2 separate regions of the Homo sapiens genome follow, and region 1 is linked to region 2. Evidence: fine-mapped expression QTL. A gene starts in region 2. The other region holds a variant in brackets. All regions are shown on one strand. Distances are between the middles of the regions. Region 1 overlaps C2orf80 (chromosome 2 open reading frame 80). Region 2 holds the start of C2orf80 (chromosome 2 open reading frame 80).

What was found. PIP is the estimated chance that this variant, and not a neighbour inherited with it, causes the effect.
Region 1: its variant is fine-mapped to the expression of C2orf80 in cerebral cortex (GTEx, PIP 0.97). The same link has a PIP of 0.9 or more in prefrontal cortex.

The regions. Positions count from the first base shown.
Region 1 is chr2:208,166,679-208,169,594 of GRCh38, reverse strand. All of the region lies in intron 8 of C2orf80 (chromosome 2 open reading frame 80), which reads left to right. Among named protein-coding and RNA genes, the nearest start is that of CRYGA, 4.5 kb to the right of the region's middle. The variant G/A (reference allele first, on the strand shown) is at 1,181.
Region 2 is chr2:208,188,369-208,191,284 of GRCh38, reverse strand. It overlaps C2orf80 (chromosome 2 open reading frame 80), which reads left to right and starts at 1,255. Exons shown (of 9, transcript NM_001099334.3): 1 at 1,255-1,332.

The sequences.
Region 1 (2,916 bases), 22 kb after region 2:
ATTACAGGTATGCACCACCACACCCGGCTAATTTTTGTATTTTCAGTAGAGGTGGGGTTTCACCATGTTGTCCAGGCTGGTCTCAAACTCCTGCCTCAGCCCCCCAAAGTGCTGGGATTACAGGCGTGAGCCACTGTGCCCGGCCGAAGGTATTAGACTTTCTAGAACCATATCTTTGTTTCTGAAGAATTTTTTGAAGAATTTGAAAAATGAGGTCATTTTTTATACGTGTTTGGAAGCAGCAAGTTTTAGAGAGCAAAACAAAACAACAATGAAAAAACAGTAACAACTCCAAAAATCACACACACACACACACACACACACAATCTAGACTTTAAACTTAATCACACACACACACAAAAAGATCTCTGAAACAGGGGTTTATAGACACCCCCCGCAAGCCTCATCAATGGACCCTATGTAAGGAAAACCTACCTCTAAAGATTACTCATTGGTATCTTATTTTTAAATATAATTTTGTTCCATATATATTTTCTTCCACAACCAATGAAGATTTTTTGATTCTTGATGGAAGCATATCTTTTATTTCCTTAGTATTTCTCACATGTATATAAAGTACTTCGCAGGCAGCAGAGATTCAGTAACAATTTTTATTTAGTGAATTGGCAGTAGGTAGTAAGCGAATAGTCCTTAGGTGACGGTTCTCAAATCTCTGTGCCCTGTCTATAGTGATCAAAGGCTCAGTTCTGGGGACCAGACCTTTCTATAGGCTGATTGATGCTTGCGAGCCCAGGAGTGTCGAAAGAACAAATGCCCATGTTTTAGTAGGGCCCCAGGTCCTGAGATGAATCCCTTCCAGAAAAGCCCTTTCTTAATAATCAAGCGACAGAAAACTCGTTTGTGTTTTTTCTTTCACACTTTATTATTTGTGCACTTTAGGCATTTTTTCCAACTCTTTTTTTTTTTTTTTTTTGAGACGGAGTCTTGCTCTGTCGCCCAGGCTGGAGTGCAGTGGCGCAATCTTGGCTCACTGCAAGCTCCGCCTCCCGGGTTCACGCCATTCTCCTGCCTCAGCCTCCCGAGTAGCTGGGACTACAGGCGCCCGCCACCACGCCCGGCTAATTTTTTGTATTTTTAGTAGAGACGGGGTTTCACCGTGGTCTCGATCTCCTGACCTCGCGATCTGCCCGCCTTGGCCTCCCAAAGCGCTGGGATTACA[G/A]GCTTGAGCCACCGCGCCCGGCCCAACTCTTGGGTAATGTATCTTTTAAACTAGTTTTAAAAATTTTAATAGTGTACACACTTATAAGTAAAATTTTCAAGCCAGACAAAAAATATAAAATGAAAAGCAAAAGAACTCCCTCTTCTTCACACCCCTGTCCCACTTTTCAGAAATAACCACTGTTAATATTTCTTATGGTATTTAATTATTTGCTACACATATACATATAAACATACATATATGTATGTCTCACTGGTTTGTTAGAATTCTTTCTATATTAAAGGAATAAGTATTTTATTAAATGGATGAAAAACATGCTTTCACAGCTTGGTATTTGAAGAAGATTTTCATTTTAAATATTTGAGCTTACTGTTTTTCCTTTTTGGCTTGCAGATATTATATGTCTTTTAGCTGAAGAACAATTTTTTTAACCTCAAGATAAAACAATGCCTTATTCAGAATTTTTTATTTATTTCCAGCCACCGAATTTCTTCATAGAGTAAGAGAAAAGAGGAAATTATTAAAAAAAAAAAAATCACAGCCAGGCACGATGGCTCATGCCTATAATTCCAGCACTTTGGGAGGCCAAGGAGAGCAGATTACTTGAGGTCAGGCATTCAAGACCAGCCTGAACAACATGGCAAACCCCATCTCTACTAAAAATACAAAAATTAGCTGGGTGTGGTGGTGCACGCCTATAATCCCAGCTACTAGGGAGACTGAGGCATGAGAATTGCTTGAACCCAGGAGGCAGAGGTTGTACTAAGCCGAGATTGCACCAGCGCACTCCAGCCTGGGCAACAGAGCGAGACTCTGTCTCAGAACAAACAAACAAACAAAACCCTCAGTGTTCTGGGAAACAGTTTTTTGTTTGTTTGTTTTTTGTTTTTTTTGAGACAGAGTCTTGCTTTGTTGCCCAGGCTGGAGTGCAGTGGTGTTATCTCGGCTCACTGCAACCTCTGCTTCCCGGGTTTAAGCGATTCTCCTGTCTCAGTCTCCTGAGTAGCTGGGATTACAGGTGTGCACCACCACACCTGGCTAATTTTTGTATTTTTAGTAAAGATGAGGTTTCACCATGTTGGTCAGCCTGGTCTTGAACTCCTGACCTCGTGATCCACCCACCTCAGCCTCCCAAAGTGCTGGAATTACAGGCATGAGCCACCGCGCCCGGCTAGGAAACAGTTTTAAAGATTTTTTTTTTAAATTGCATTGTCCTAGGAAAGCGTCAGTAGTGGGCACATTACTAGGAAGTAAATTTGGAATGAACACGACCATACTAAAGAGCTAGAATACAGCATACTTCTTGAATCCAGGCTACCCACTTAATAACTTGAGTGAGTTACCTAATCTCTCTGTGCTTTTAGTTTTTCATCTCTTTAAAAAGTCATAATAGTACCTACCTCATAGGGTTGTTATAAGCATTAAATAAGTTATATGTGTAAAGGCTTAGAAAAGTGTCAGGACAGGCCAGGCATGGTGGCTCACGCCTGTAATCCCAGCACTTTGGGAAGCCGAGGCGGGCGGATCACGAGGTCAGGAGATCAAGACCATCCTGGCTAACATGGTGAAACCCCATCTCTACTAAAAAATAGAAAAAATTAGTTGGGCGTGGTGGCGCCTGTAGTCCCAGCTACTTGGAGGCTGAGGCAGGAGAATGGCATGAACCCAGGAGGCGGAGCTTGCAGTGAGCCGAGATCCCGCCACTGCATGCACTCCAGCCTGGGTGACAGAGTGAG
Region 2 (2,916 bases):
TGTCTAGGTACAATATAAACTCAATATGGAGTGAACAACTAGTTTAGAAAATTCTATATCTAGGGTTTTGTTAGTGTCTTTCATAATATGACCTCAGGTAATCAAGTGACTTACTTGGCCAGTGGAAAGGAGTGGAAATAAAGATTAAGAGGTGTCAATAACAGACACCCAGCCGTAGATGGGCCAGAAGAACAAACTCTGCCCCTAGTCTAGTGGTATAGAGGAGACACAGACAGAAACCATTAACAAGCTTTAAGCAAGGGAGCAAGTGTTTAAGACTAGGAGGCAGGCGTGTGGGCAGGGATTGTCAGGCCTCTGAGCCCAAGCCAAGCCATCACATCCCCTGTGACTTGCACATATACATCCAGATGGCCTAAAGTAACTGAAGATCCACAAAAGAAGTAAAAATAGTCTTAAGTGATGACATTCCACCATTGTGATTTGTTTCTTCCCCACCCTAACTGATCAATGTGCTTTGTAATCTCCCCCCGCTTAAGCAGGTACTTTGTAATCTCCCCCACCTTTAAGAAGGTTCTTTGTAATTCTCCCCACCCTTGAGCATGTAGTTTGTGAGATCCACCCCCTGCCCACAAAACATTGCTCCTAACTCCACCGCCTATCCCAAAACCTATAAGAACTAATGATAATCCACCACCCTTTGCTGACTCTCTTTTCGGACTCAGCCCGCCTGCACCCAGTTGAAATAAACAGCCATGTTGCTCACACAAAGCCTGTTTGGTGGTCTCTTCACACAGACGCACATGAAAGGGATCTCATCTATAATTAGAAAGATGGTGCTAGCTTGAACCCAGGTGATGTTTCTTCAGGATTGCCACTGTTTTGTATTGACATTCATCGAGTAGAATGATCTTTGGGTCATTGGGTACTTTGGGGCACCCTAACTATGTAGGAGCCAGAGTTTCACTAGCTTCCCCAGCAATCCTTGCTTAGTCAATTGATTCCTATGTCTGCAGCCAAATGCTATAAAAAACTCTGGGGAAGGTAAACTCCTCCCATCCTCTTGGTTTTTCAATTAATCATTTAGATGGGAAACATAAGCCTACTCAGGTAAAAAGACACGTGAACTTCAGGCCAGGATCACAATCCTGTCCCAAATATATGACTTTCCACCCTCCCTCAACCCTTAATGGGGGTGGGCGTAGGGGAGTGTATTTTTAAAACAAATGATTTTAATTCATTCACTGTTTCCTAGCAACCAGGAAAAAGCATGTGTTCCTGATGTCTGTGAGCACCAGTCTGAGATGCGCGGATGCTTCAGCATGCCTCCAGAAGCAGAGAAAGAACAAAAGCACTGGAACCGGTCTCCGGTTGGTGAGCGATTCTCAAAGGGGAATTTGTTAAGAGCAGGCACTTAATAGAACAGCCCGAGAGACCTGTACCACGATTGCAGGTGTGCAGCAGGGAACCTGCATGGAATGTGCAGATATTCTCCAGGAAATGATATTCCTATAGAATTTGGGGGCTCTGACTTCTAGGGAATTGTTTCTATGAAACAGCTAAAGCCTGAGACAGCTGACATCTTTCCAGTACCTCTTTTGTGTGTGCTTTCAGCCACACACAAAACACACAGCGGTCTTGTTTTCTTTAGAGCTCTATAGACAGAGAAGAGGGATAACTGGCAGAATTCAAATCTAGCTGAATTAGAATCCATGCAAATGGCCTTCTTTAGACCAGGCGTAGCTACTAAATGCATATAAATCACTGACTTCCACAGCTGTAAGGGACCTCTCCAATCATTCAACGCTTGTTTTACAGAGGAAGAAATGAAAAAACATAGGCAAATTAATTTGTTCAAGGTGCACAGCTAGTTGGTGGCCTCACAGGGTCTTCTGACCTACAGTTTAGTGGTTTGGGAGTGGGACATACTCATATTTTAAAGACTGAAACCTTTGCATATTATACCATATTGAATGGTGGTGGTGGGGGCAGGGGATGGGGAGGATGAGGGATGATCTAAGACGAAGCTGTCATAACAACGAAGCAATGCAAATATTATAACTTGTAAATCTGAAACTCAAAGGGCTTTCTCAGAATTACAAGACAAGAATGGATTAAAGCACATGCTAACTGTGCCTTACTCCCTGCCAAGGAATTGAGATAGGCCAAATAGTCTAGCAACAAATGTTTTTCCAAACTATTGAATCAGAAGAATTTTAATGCATGCCAGACTTTATAGAGTTACAGAATGTTAGGGTAAGAAGTGCTCTTGGCAATGTTAACCAGGCCCATCTTTTTCGGATAACACCTGAGGCTGGGAAGCAGAAGACGCACAGCCACATCAATGAGTGTGGCTTTCCTGGGTCCAGTGCTCTCTCTTCTCTAGGCAATAGGGCCACCTCTATGGCTTGCTGCATCCTCTCCCCATTGACTCTGTAGGGAGCAATATTATTGTCTTGATACTTAATCAATTTCCTGTGAAATGCTCTTACTTTCTTCCCCACTTTCATCTTATCCACATCCCGTCCACTCCCCAAAAACTAAAGCAGATGTAGCAGCAGCAAGAATGATCCAAAATGGCTGGGCACGGTGGCTCACGCCTGTAATCCCAGCACTTTGGGAGGCTGAGGCAGGTGGATTACAAGGTCAGGAGATGGAGACCATCCTGGCCAATATGATGACACCACCCGGTCTCTACTAAAAGTACAAAACAATTAGCTGGGCTTGGTGGCGTGCACCTGTAGTCCCAGCTACTTGGGAGGCTGAGGCAGGAGAATCACTTGAACCCAGGAGGCAGAGGTTGCAGTGAACCGAAATTGTGCCACTGCACTCCAGCCTGGTGACAGACCGAGACTCCGTCTCAAAAAAAAAAAAAAAATCCAAAATAATGAAGGTGGCCTAGGGAAGCATTCATTTAGATCAGCGCCATCCTGTTGGCTCTCTGCTTACTGTTGGTAG